Homo sapiens: one gene and its partner. The protein of the gene in region 2 interacts with the protein of the main gene of each other region in a biochemical or structural test. Each region holds a gene or a part of one and is shown on either strand. Other genes may lie near its edges.

Region 1 (6,967 bases), on a different chromosome or scaffold from region 2:
ATGGCTACTGTGGATTGATACACCATTATTTGCCTAGCTGAAGGATTAATATCCCATCTTATCCTGCCTTCTTCCTCCCCTCAAGTAGGCCTAATTGTATGAGATAGAGAGAAAAAGAGAAGTCTAGGCAGGAGATGGGGATAAGGTAAAGAGTGGAAATACAGTTGGAAATTAAGCAAATATCTTACAAGTGTTTTGGCTATTTAGCTATTTACATCATTATTCTCCATCCTCTTTGTGTATTTTGTCTGTAATCAAGGTGATATTCTGACATAGGTTGTTCTCCAAAAGCCTGTCTTGTATCAGACAGGCTAAAGTATTGGTCAATTCTGTCATGAGTGGTAAGGCCCTTTATTTGGCTTTTCATATGTTCCTGATTGAGACTACAGAAGCCAAAGTTGTTATGATCAAAGATTTCCAGCAGGGGGTGTAGCTGCCTCTATAGGGTAAGTTCTTTTGAAGCCACAACATATGAAACATTTGAATATTGCAGTATTACCACTAATGGTAGAAGCTGGAATTATGATAACTTTTTTTATGACTGTCATGTCTTTTGATCTCAAAAAGACCATGCATATTAATACTTTATTAGGATGTGATGAAGAACTAGAGATTTATGAAGAAAATTTAAATTAAAAACCGAAAATGCCTGACAAATCTTATTCTAATTTTTTCAAAGTAAACGAGGAACAAAGAGTCCAGTTATTTTAATTATCCAGTACAGCAGAAGAGAGGCTTAACTTTTTTATTCTAGATAAGAAGAGTAGTTGATTTGAGAGGGCTTGTTAATATTTATTCCATTTCCATTTCTGTCCGATATTTGTGCGCGCGCATGTGTGTGTGTGTAAATAAGTTACCTATTTTCTTAAAAATTATCCTTTTGAGTAGGGAGGGTGGGTGTTTTAAAGCTTTTTCTCTGAAGTCTTGGCTCCTGATCAATTTTTAAAGATGCCATCTTACATATTTTTCCTCCTGCTCTTTGATGCCTTTTATTTATGGATATATAGGCATTATTAGCCACAGAATTGTGGCCCCCATTTCAGATTTTTATTGATACAGAAAACTCTATTTTTTGAGAAGAGCAAATTACATACAATAACTTATTTGTACTGGTAAACACCTTTAGACTATTAGTATTAATAAGAAACGAAGTCCTAAATTTCCAGGCTCCCTAAATCAAGATAAAGAACTGAAAATAATGTCGACTATGAAAATCATTGTTTGGAAATCGTGATCTTTTTTTTTTTTTTAACGTCTTCTGGTGTCTTCATTATAAGAAAATAAATGAGATTTCAAGTCTTCCCTGCCTCCAGTATCATGTCCTATAACTGAACATTACACCTTTTTAACGTTTTCTTTAGAAGCCCTGATTTATTTGGCTTTGGTTTATGTTGATACATGTCCATGATTATTAAAATTTCTGATTATTTAGGACATAATTTTTAAGGTATCTTTAGGGTGTACACTCTATAGTACTTAACATCTTATTCAGGTTATGACTTTGAACTGCATCATTATAACACTAAAAAGCAACCTTGGCTAACTTCAGTACCTTACGTAACATAAGAAATAAAGAATAACTTGAACTTAAAATACTTTTTATATGTTTACTTCGGGTATTCTTAAGGGCTTTCAGTACAAAGATAAAAACATGCGTTGGAATGCATCAACATTCCAACTTACATAAGTGGTGTAGATACCTATGGCATTAGTACCACATTTTGATGGTTGGACCACCCACCAAATTCCCTTCTCTCCTTTTTTACTTCTTTTTCTTTCTGTTTGCTTTCCTTGCAAGTTTCCTTCCGCATCCTTCTTTCCCACCTACAATTTGTAACTGAAAGAAAGAAGTAGCTACAGACCTTACCTAACCTACTCTTAACCTACTTGGTAGGTAGGGTTCAGATGCAAGGGAGTGGCTCGAATAAAGCATTTTAGTTATGCCTTTTAGAAATTAGGGAGCAAGAGATATATAGAAAAATTAGAAATGTCTCTTCTACCTTTATTAAGTCTACCTTTGAGAAATATGAAGGGCAGGAAGACGGAAAAACGAACAGAACTTCTGCTGGAATATTGTGACAAATTTACTGACAAATATTTTCTAATAGATTTTTACCAACAGGCAGTTTTTGTTTTCTTTACTGACAGACCGTAAATGTACTTCTGGTTGGCAGCAGCTGCATCATTATAACACAAAAGCAACCTTGGCTAACTTCAGTACCTTATGTAACATAAGAAATAAAGAATAACTTGAATTTAAAATACTTTTTATATGTTTACTAACATTAAACTATTTTCAATGCAGGAAATAAATATTTCCCCAAAGAGGAATCCCCCCTCAATTACTTTCTTTCAGACTTAACAAATTGGAGTAGATGTGGTTTTGCTCATTCTTTTATCTGCTGGCAACTATTTTAAGTCTCCTGTGCAAGGCAGATTCCGATGACCTCGGGAAAGTCACAGGACCTCAGTTTCTTCAATGGTAAAAGCAAAGGCAGTGGTTTCTACCGTCCTTTCTCACTGCACCATTCAGCGTCAGTGCCCTCATGAGAAACACACCCAAAGCCCAGTGTGCTCTACCCCAAAACTTGTGAAATTTCTAGAGTCTCAAAAAAGTGAATATGTTTAAGGCAGTATAATAAAAGCCAGGTGGACGACAGTTCCTAAAGTTAGGCTGGTAGTGGCGTGAACAGGGGTCTTTTGGGCCACCCTGAGACCCGCCCCACGGGGCTTCTCGATCCACGTCTTGGCTTCTCGCTCCACTTTCACAGAACGTACTGAATCAGGGGCCTGCATCCCCGTGCCGTGCCGAGCCGACGGAGAAATGGACTCCTCTTCTCGCTCCTGTGGAGTTTCGTCTTCTGGGTGAGTGTGGCACCGGGTCCTGGGCGGGTGATGTCTGTAGTTGGCGAGCGATCCTCAGCCAGAAAACTGGCTGCGCACACAGGCGCAGACACGCGAACATGTTCCTGCGAACGAGCTTGGGCGCATGTTTTCCTCCCTTGCTTTCTTTAATGCTCAGAGACCATAAGGGGATTTATCGAGAAGCATTCGGTGCCCATGCCCGGTTTGGAACCGCGAGCACAATATCTGGTTCCTTTGCAGTACGGTGGTTTGCTCTTGAGTTACGACCAGAAACCGGAACAGAAGGAAAGGGAGAAGCAGGGGAGGTTCGGGGACGACGGCGCTCCGGGCAGTAAGGCAGTAGCTTCCAAAGCGTGGAGGATGGGACTGAGGAGGAGCAGAATACGGAGAAAGAGGGAAGCTGAGGAAAAATACTCACGCCAATGGGTAAAAGGGAAAAGGTGAGAAGGAATGGAGTAGGGGAGGGAACCAATGGTGGGAGAGGCGGAGGAAGAAGGGGGAGGGGTAGAAGCCAATGGGGGAGTGGAGGGGAGGGAGAAGCAGAGGGGAGGAGGGAGCGGGGACGCGAGCGAGGACGCGGCCCCGCGCGCTCGTCCCCCTCCCTCCGACTGGATAGCTCGCGCCTTCCCAGGCTCCCGGGAGACGAGGGCAGGGGCGGGGCCGTGCCGGGTGCGCGGCGCGGGAGGCGTCGCGAGGTGAAGGGGCGGGGACGGGGGATTGTGGGGAGGGCAGCGCGGGTTCGCGCGCGCGCGCGCGTCCCGTCCAGGCTGCGCCGCCGCGCCGCCGCTCCGCCCCCGGTCGGGTGTGTGGCTGCGCGCGCCGGGAGAGATGCTGAGGTAAAGTTCGGGAGAGAGGGAGAGAAATCCGTCAGCGCGAGGGAGCCCGAGTGGCCGCCATTACTGAGCCCGGCGCGGCGGCGGGCGCTGGGGAAGGGGGGAGGGACGGGCCGCCGCTGGTGGCGGGGAGGGAGGGAGGGAGGGTGGGTGAGCTGGCTGCGGGAGCCGTGGGGCTCAGGGTTTCGGGGCGTGTGTGTCGGGGAGGGCGGGGGGAGGTGGCTGAAGGGACGCGCCGCTCGGTGAGCGCGCCGAGGAAGAGAGGCGAGCGGAGAGTGGAGGAGGAGGCGGCGGCGGCGGGAGCGGTCCCCAGGAATGTCGCTGCCGCCGCCACCGCCGGGGCCGCTGCCGTTGAGGAGGAGACGGAGGAGACCGACGTTGTTAGGTAGGACCTTGCGGACCCCGCTCCTCCAAGCCTGCCTGCCCCCTCCCGGACGGGGACCCTCCTGCGGCTAGCTGCCCCGCTCGGTCGCCGCTGCCGGTTGTAACCAGTTGAAGGGGCTGGGGCCCCGCGGCCGCCGAGGGGAGCCTGGCGCTGCGCTCGGTTTTCGCAGGCCGGGCGGGCAGCAGCTGCAGCGTTAGGGATACGTTCGGCGTGAAGGGCAGAGAGGCCGGGGGAGGGGGTGCTTTCTCCACAGGTGACGGGGCCAGGGTCGGCGGAGGCCTGATGCTGGCCGGGGATCGCCGGCCCCGCCAGGCGTCCGCTCTCGCCCGCCGCCTCACTTGCTCGAGTCTCGGGTGGTCCGTCGAGAGGGGAGGTGGCGGTGTCCGTTGGCCGGGTTGCTGCTGTTAACGAGTTCCACCTGGAAAGGGTACACGGGGCGGGTGCAGATTCGCGGAAACACAGTCTCGGTTGCAAACTTAAACGCCTTGTAGGGGGGATCGGCCCTTTCACTTTCCCTCATCTCCTCGACTCCTCCCTGGGTTCTCTTCACCAATTTTCCATCTGCTTTGAAGCTTGGAGTAAGATATGAGAAGTTGCACTGCGCATCCAGAGCCCAGAGTCCTATGGGCTGACTGCGACTGGGTTGAGGCTTTGATACTGAGTTTTCGCTAGAATAACCTCCAGATTCTTCCTCTCTTTCCACTAAAGAAAAGTATCGGGGTGGGGGTGGGGAGCCGCGCGGGAGCGCGCGCGCACTTATCCACACAGAAATACTCCCTCTCACCCTCCCTCTTCAGCGTTATTAGAAATGCAAGAGAGCTGGAGGCTCGGGGTGTAGCTGAGGTTGAAAGGTGCACGGAAGTAAGGGCAAACTGTTATTAGGCCGTTTAGTAAAATCCCGAAAAAGTTGTAGGGGAGACGCTTATACTTCTACCATGTGATAGAAATTCGGATTTGGCCATCGCTTAATAAATGGGAATTCAAATATTTTGAGATAGAGCAAGATAGGCATATAGATGGGTTTGTGCTTACGTTTTAAGTTTAAATTCTTATCGATCATTTATTTTTTCCTTTGTGATAGGCAGGAAACTGAATTTTTTTTTAAATGTTCAGGTGTAAAACAGCAAAATGCTTCGCTGTATTTACTAGTACTTGCTTATGTTGCTTTCTACAGGTAGGGGCGGGGGGCGAGTTTGTCAATTCCACTTAAATCCAGAACCAGTATTCAGTTAGAATGTTAGGTGGTGTTTATCCGCATGAAGGATCTCGTTCACTTCATGGGAGCTTGCTCTACATTTCCACTTAAAATGGTTCTCCTAACAAAAATTTCATCTAGATGCAGCGATTAGACATTTGGAATAATGTTTGGTTTAAAAATACGTTAATGAAACCTTTTGCTGTCAATTCTAGTTTATTTGTACTGTAATACGATAAAACGGTATTCTTATTCAGTGTTTGTAGATAAGTATTACTAACCGTCTAGGTAACCTACTAGATAGTTTCTTGAGTAAGATTTTGCTTTCATTTTAAATTCCTTTCTCATTTTTTGCTTTCATCTATCCTTTGTATACTAATTGACCTCCATTACCTTTATCTGTAGTACAAAGAGCGGTAAGTATGTGTCACCAAAAACTTGCAAAGACACTGGAGCAATTTATGACTAAACGCACTGGAGTGAAAGGCTGCGCATACCTATGCTTGTAACTTTCAAGAAATAGCACTATTGATCTAATTGACTTAAAGCAGAATCAGACGGTACAGATGATTAAATAACTATTGATTTGGTTGTCTTGTGTAGGCTGTGTTTTTAAACCTAGATCAACATGTCTTATTTTGCCATTCTTTGTACATTAATTATTAAGAGTACTGGGGAGTGAGGTGGGTTACACTTTGATGTAAGAATTGCGGCAGAATTCTGTTATCTTTATGAGTTTTGTAGTGTCCCTCCCCATTTAAACGACCTTAGCAATTTTTAAAATGTGTTGCAAAATTATTACCTTAATTCTGTCACAAGATACTTATCCTAAATGTTTTGAAAACCGTCTCCCCTTCTTATTTGTGTTTGAAAAGCATATTAGCACAGTCATTTTTTTGGAGAGTTATTTTGACCTTGAAAGTTAAGATTATTTAAGGAATGAATATTGTATTTGCATTCCTTTTTTGGATTTGAAGTAGCGATAATAAGTTTTCTAACTCACTTTTTTTAATTGAAGAAAAAGTTAGGTCTCATAAAGACTTTACTAAACTTTACCAACATTGGCAGGATGTAAGATGAGTGTTGGCCTTTAGTGGTCACTTCTTAAATATGAAATGGCATAATAGAGATTTTCTTGGTAGCTACAGAATAAGTTTTGTCGCAACTGTAGTTTCCATAGATACTATTTTAAGAACTATTTATTTGGGTTGTATGGTCCACAGTTTTTTCTTTGCATACCAAGAAGGTGTGTAGTAATATAATTGGCTGAAGAAGCATTGTACAGTGTTGTTTTAGTGATGTCTATGTTCCTAAAAGATACTTGTATTATATATTTAAAGTACACCAAGGGAATTTAATTTCTAAAAGACCTGTGAAGAAACATCAGTAGATTCATCATTCAGTAATTTGAGTAATCAGGCTCTTGTTTTAAGTGCAGGCTTTTGTCGATTATTTTATTGAAATAGGAAAAACCATATTAGAAATTAAGAAAAATGCTTCAATGCTAAGAATTTTAAGTATGAACTTTAATTGGTTTTCAAACTCTGTTCCTTGGATTCCTGTGGGTTTTTTTCCTAGATGCCTTGAGACTTCCTATGACAACCCACCCTCCCAAACCAGGACAGCTTCTATTTTCATGTATTAAGTGTATTGTATTTAAATATAAGAATATTTAACTTAATTAAATAT
Region 2 (7,025 bases):
CTAAAATTATTTTTTAAAAATCAGCTAAGGTAAGAAGAAACAAATAGAAAAACTAAATGCTACAATTACCTTAAAATTAAATAACAGTGTCTGTTTATGAGACATAGATAATTTTACTATAGTTTTTAGTTGTTAAGGAATAATTCTAGTGCACAGCAAGGTCACTGACACTATTACATAATCCTTCAATAAATTGGAAATAAAGTCCTAAGCGCTTCTTGAAATAGCAGTGAAGCTTTTGTAACTGAATGACTTATTTTCATTCTTCATTTTATTTGACCTCTGTAGCATCTAAAAAAATGTTTACCATTGACTTCCTGAAATTATCGTTGGTGCTTTTTCCTGACTTCTATGTCTTTGCTCTCTTCATTGGTGCTTCTTCCTTTTATTACCTATACACTGATGACTCCTTTCTGAATTCCTTTATGTCTAACTTTAGAAAATCTGGAAACTAAAGATTAAAAAGGAAAATTGCTCTTCATAAGCCTACCCTCAAAGTTAACCACTGTTCAATATTCCATACTAGTGTATTTCCTTCAACTTCAGATTGCTATCTAATGAACACAATAGATTTCCATAACATATTTTAATATCAGTAAGTTACTACTCTAACTTCCCTATTCCTATGAACAATGAAGGTTTCTAGTTTGCACAACTGGATTTGATAAAGCCATTCTCTCCACATTTATCTTCAGATTCAATTGGTCCCCAAGTCCTCACTTCTAAATCATCAGAACACCTAGCACCTACCTTTTTCTCTACCTACACCTTAGCTTTTATCTTCCTTATACTTGATCCACTGCTTTTGACAGGTCTTCCCATCCTCAGCCTTTCCCTCAAAAGTGTCACCATTTGTCTTTTAAAGGTACACTTCTGAATATTACTTTAAAATGTGAAGCAATAAAGCTATCTTACTTTTGGGGGAAAAACCCTTAAGCCCTTGCTTATAGACATCTGATGGCTCTCCTACGGAATAAAGACAAATGCATTGGGCCAAGCCTCCAGCAAACTTCCCTTTCATAACTCTCCCGCAAAATTATATTCTCTACTCTGTTCATAATGAACAACTTAATATATACCATGTGCTTTCACGTAGCCCTGAATCTGCTAATTCTGTTACCTCTATACCTCTACCAATGTCTCTTCTACCTCTTAACAAGGTACTACTCACCTTCAAATATCCCTTTTCTGTAGGCTTTCTTTACCCTCCTCCTTACCTCCAAGGGAACAGCTTCAGTTATATTCTTAATATTTTATTAGTATCTTTTAGCCTATATTGTGATATTGTGTAACAAATTGTTCTAAATCATTAAGTCCATTAGTATCTTATTCATTCGTTATATTTCAGCACTAGCAATGCCTAACAATACAGTAGGCATGTCAACCATTTACAAATGTGCACTGTATACCGTTCACAAATATGCACTGCAAATGTAGGCATGGATATAAAGTAAGGTTCTTTCCTCAAGAAGCTAACATTGAAGACAGTAGAGAGAAAGAAACAGACGTCAGTAGCAAATATCACCAAAGTTTCACAGACCCTCATAGAAAGACTGCAATGCACATTCTTATTTGAAATCCTAACTTCTAAATAGTACAGACGGAGCTTCTCTAAGAGACCAGCAAGTCGAGAGATCAGCATGTATTAATATAATCTGGTATGAAAAATGTTTGACCATAAATACTGTCCTTATCTAACAAGAGATAGTGTTGATATTTCATACTAGTTGAGAATAGAAAAACTGTCTTCTGAATACCTTTAGAAAAGAACAAATAAAGATTTTATATTTGACCAAATAATCAGGAAATCTAGAATTATGGAACTGATTCTTAATAGGAAATTACAAACCTACCTCGCAGTGATACTCAAATATTGCACTTTCAGTAGTATTTGCTGATTCTTCTTTTTCAGCACACGTTTCAAAGGATGAAAGTTGCTAGTATTAAAAAAAAGAGCGAGAGAAAATGATCTACCAAGCTAATAAAGAATACAACTGCTGCTGTACCGGGCAATCTCACAGTACAGCACTGAAGAAAACAAAGACTACTAGCAGCGTTGGGAAGTGCTCTTTCAAAGCTGTTGAGTAGGCACAAACTTCTTGTTTCAGATCAAGTGTTGTGTCTTCAACTTAAGTGTACTCTTCTTTGGTCTTGTTAGTTGTTACGAGGTTTGTTCCTTGCCTGATCTGAACTTGAAGCAGCAGTTTCAGGTGGTAAAGTCTGTTCTGTTACACTTCATACTAAAGGTAAAAAATGAAGACATTAAGTATAACATACATAAAATAATCAGGGACAGTGGGTGAGAAGAGGGACAAACTCATTTCATTAACTTAGAATCATGGGTCATGCAAGTAATGCAGGAAACTTGGAAGCATGCTCATCTGATGTTATTTGGAGCAATCTCTCAAGTACTAGCAACTACCTCCTTTGGTATCTCATACCCAAGACCTCAAATTATTCCATAGTCTTTATTGACCTCTTCCCCCAAATAAGCTCAGTTACATGGCATAATGTTTAATTTAGTGCAAGTATTTTATAAGGATCTAGCTCTGTGGAAAACATAAAAGAAGTCCCTGCCATGAGAGCATAGACAATCTTGCTGAAAAGACAAGATGTAAACATGGAAAAAAAAAACAGAGTATAGGACAAAAATGCCAAAAATTATTTTGCTCAATTAGTATCTAGGTATCTATTATGTCACAGACTATCTAGAAATATTATTTATTGTTTATCCACAACTGCATGTCCATCAAAGCAACCAAGGCTTTTAAATAAGTGGAATTTGAAGTGAACCTGGAAAATCAGGCAGAATTCTAGGAGAAAGAAAATAGCTGAGTATTCTAGGCATGAAACAGCACATAAGTCAAGCGAGAATATGCCACTAAATTCTTTCTTCAGAGCAGCGACCATGCATTCTATGATTTTCTAAGCCCAGCATCAAGTGAAGTCTTCTGCATGAATGCCTGTGGCAACATGTGTGGCTTGTTGTTTCAGAGGAAAATCAACAGGCTAGCCTGGCTAGAACAGAGAGCTGGGCTGAAGTGAAATAGGATATGTAGTGTGACAGGTGTAGCGGAGCCCGATTATGAAGCATTTCAACGTGATGTAACAGGAAACAGTGCCTTAGTTTTTGATGAAAGTGGTATTAAGTCTTGAAATCCTAAAGGAGATGACTTAGTAAGCAAACAGAAATCTCATTTGCACTGCTGCAGTAAATAGATGAGAAATGTCTATAGAAGAGAAATAAAATTTATTTATCAGTAAAAATCACATTTCTGCTTTATATTAGCTATAAAATAAACAACAATTTTGCACTGACTCCAAAGTTACAAAATGGTGTTAACGAAAATTATTTCTACAGAGATAAGAAAAAGGTGTACGTGCTGAGAAATGGATATTTGAAAACATCAGAAGAATGATTATCAGGTGAGAGGTCAGAGCTGATTAAATAGCTCAGACCAGAAGAGCCTAATCGCAATCACTGGTACTAGTAAATACCATGAACAAGTTATTTAATCTCTCTAAGTTTCACTTTCCTCACATGTAAAATAAAAACTCAATAACAGCTGATCTGGCCATTTTCTATTCTCTAACATCCCATGTTCCTTCAAATATCAAATGTTACATACACTTGTCTGATCTTTCAACTTTATTTAGATCATTCTCCTATTACCCAGACTAGATATATGTCTCAGGGTAATGGTGCTCAAATACTTGGGAAGCTTTAAAAAAAAAAAAACAAAAACAAACCTATGCCCAGCCTCCACTCAGAGTAATACAACTGGTTTGAGGTAGGGCCACTTCTTTAACTATCTTGATTCTTCCCCTCTCCATCACCATACCCAATGTTGCAAGTTGTGTTAGTATTTCCCTCGCTATATCTTTTGTATTCATCTCTTATCCTACTAAGTGACATATTTTAGCTCAGGTGTCTAATATATCCGCCAACTTCCAGTGTGCACACTTTCCATTTTCTGTCACATACCACCACCAGACTATCAAAAACTTGAATTTTGGCCAGGTGAGTTGGCTCACGCCTGTAATCCCAGCACTTTGGGAGGCCTTGGCAGGAGGTCTGCTTGAGCCCAGGAGCTCCAGACCAGCCTGGGCAACGTGGAGAAACCCCATCTCTACTAAAAATACAAAAAATTAGCCAGGCATGGTGGTATACGCCTGGAGCCTCAGCTACTTAGGACTGGGAAGTCAAGGCTGCAGAGAACAAGATAGTGACACAGCACTACAGCCTGGGAGACAGATCAGAACCTTGTCTCAAAAAACAAAACAAAACAAAAACTCTCCAATTTCATTTCTCATCTCCCCTGTCAAACATCTTCAGTTATTTTTCCACCATTCTAGATGGGAAGTTTTTAATCCTGGCTATCCACCCACCCCCAGCAACCTTAAACAAACAAACAAACAAAAACCAACAAAATCAAAGCCTGAGTCCCGTACAAAGATTCTAAATTTAACTACACTAGGTTAGGTGCCAGGCCTTGTTATCTCCCCCCAACCCCTGCTCCAAGTGTTTCTGACTTCCAGCCAGGATTAAGAACTACTATTCCAGGTGTCTCTATTCTACCTTCCATCCTTACTCTCTACTGTGTTCCAGTTCTACCAGAAGTCCATTACCTCGCCTAATCCTTAAACACAACTCTTGGGAGATTCCTGAATTCTAGCCACCTTTGCTTATATGGGTCTTCCCACAAAAAAATACTATGTTGTGATCTTCAAGGTGACAAAAAAGCCTTTCTTGACCATTCCAGCAGACTCATTCATTAATTCCTACTAATGAATGGGGCAGTAACATCCACTGCCTGCACCAAGCAATTTGCAGCAAGTGATACCAAGCAATTTCTGTACTTTGTTTACTTCATGTTTTTATGTATCTTGTTCCTCCAATTCTATTTCAAATTTCTGAGAGGTAAACTCAAATTTCTTTATCACAGCCTCCTTTCGCACCTAATCCAGTGCTGCCATATACAACCAAAGGAAAAAGGTAGTTAATCCTTAATAAGCAAAAGGACGCCACAATTCAAGTGTAAACAGTTATGCCACAATTCAAGTGTAAACAGTTATACCACCTTTAATTATATAGTTTTAATTATCCAATCAAGAAATAATCTCTTCTTTAAAAAATACAGACTGTGTATATTGGTTTTATCTTAATGCTTTAGGTGTATTAATGAACCCAAAGAACTCAACATGGAGAAAACAAGTTATCTTGAAACACTTGAACTGGATTAACCCATTCCAGGTTGTCGTATCACATTAAGAACTGTCAAGTCCAAGATTCAGTAACACAAAAAAAGAGATTTCTGGAACTGAAACTCTGGAGTACTGCAGGGCCATTCTTAGGCACTAATGAGGTCTATTAGGAGCTATTAAAGCTCAAACGAACCCACCAACAGTCATGAATAATTTACTGGCCGAATTAACATCTTCACAGCTTCTATAGTTAACTAAATGTTTTTCAATTAAATTAACACTTACTGAAGAACTTAAAGGTATTGGTCAGGCAGTTTAATATAAATAGCTATCCACTCATGCCCGGATTAACATTAATTGGTGCTACTAACCACCTCTTTTGCCTTAACCCTAGGAACACAAGTGCATCTCCTCCATCCCCCTAAAAGCTTGAAACTTAAGTTGCATGAAACACTGGGTATTGGGCTGGGGTGGTGGCTCTCGCTTGTAATCCCCAGCACTGTGGCAGGCCAAGGTGGGAGGATTGTCTGAGACCAGCCTGGGCAACATGGTGAGATGCTGTCTCTACAAAAAATTTTAGAAATAAAAAATAAATTCACTGGGTGTGGTGGCATGCACCTGTAGTCCCAGCTACTCGGGAAGCTGAGGCAGGAGGATCACTTGAATCCAGGAGTTTGAGGCTGCAGTGAGCTATGACTGTGCCACTGCACTCTTGCCTGGGCGACAGAGTAAGACGCTGACTCAAAACAATCGCCCCCACAAACCCACCATAGGGTACCAATAAAAACACTAGGGAACAATTTAAATGTGTATCTGAGAATCATACTGTGTGCTAAGTAATCAACTCCTTTTCCCTTTGCTCAGCATGGAAATAGTATTATTACTTAATCACTGCAATCTCCACCTCCCGGGTTCAAGCGATTCTCCTGCCTCAGCCTCCCCAGTAGCTGGGACTACAGGCGTGTACCACCAGGCCTGGCTGGCTAATTTTTGTATTTTTAGCACAGATGGGGTTTCACCATGTTGGTCAGGCTGGTCTCGAACTCCTGACCTCAAGTGACCCACCTGCCTCAGCCCCCCAAAGTGCTGGGATTACAGGCGTGAGCCACTGCACCTGGCCACCACCTGTTTTATTTCATGTCTTCCTCGGCTGTTTTACCTCAAAGGCCTAGCATAAGCCATGACATAGTCGGCACTAAATGAAGAGGTTAAACTAACACATTTATGTGGTAAGTAATCCATCTAAAATGTATCACACTACCTAGTTTATTATTTTGAAAGTATGTGCAGCACTCACTTCGGGAAAAGTTAATGAAAGGCTAAGCCAGTCTACAAAAGTCTGCTCACCTAACCCACTTCCTTTAGGCAGTATCTTCTTTTAGGCAGGAAAAAACAAAGACCCAAATAGGTAGCATAGGACTGAAAAGTTTCTCTATTGCCTGACATTTCATTGAGCACCACATTTTATAACTGAAGTGCTTAATAGGTCTTAATTCATTTTTACTTTAGGATCTAAGGTAAACGATAAACTCTAGATAATTAACCAACCTAAGTCATCTGTTGAGTAAAAATAAAAAATCAAACTGACACAACTATCTTTTTGTATCTGTGTAGTAACAACTGTGCTGGATTAATTATCTAAACAGCTACTGAGATATTTAAAATTATCTATCACTTAACTGCTTATATATACACCCAGAAACCTAATAGTTTTAAGCAGGACAAATGGCAGTGTGGGAAGATGCTGAAGAAACATTCTAGACACATCAGAAAACACCACAGACCAGCAGTTTCCAACAGAAATACAGTGTAATTATAAT

Evidence for each region. The genes of interacting proteins can lie anywhere in the genome.
Region 1: the proteins of CSDE1 (region 2) and ARHGAP5 form a complex in vitro, tested with the Homo sapiens proteins (one study listed by BioGRID).

Annotation. Positions count from the first base shown.
Region 1 is NC_000014.9:32,073,353-32,080,319, forward strand, and holds the start of ARHGAP5 (rho GTPase-activating protein 5), read left to right. Parts: upstream 1-3,951; 5' UTR 3,952-4,083; intron 4,084-6,967. UniProt on the Homo sapiens protein: GTPase-activating protein for Rho family members.
Region 2 is NC_000001.11:114,747,968-114,754,992, forward strand, and holds part of CSDE1 (cold shock domain-containing protein E1), read right to left. Parts: intron 2,241-7,025; 5' UTR 1,854-2,240; intron 1-1,853. UniProt on the Homo sapiens protein: RNA-binding protein involved in translationally coupled mRNA turnover.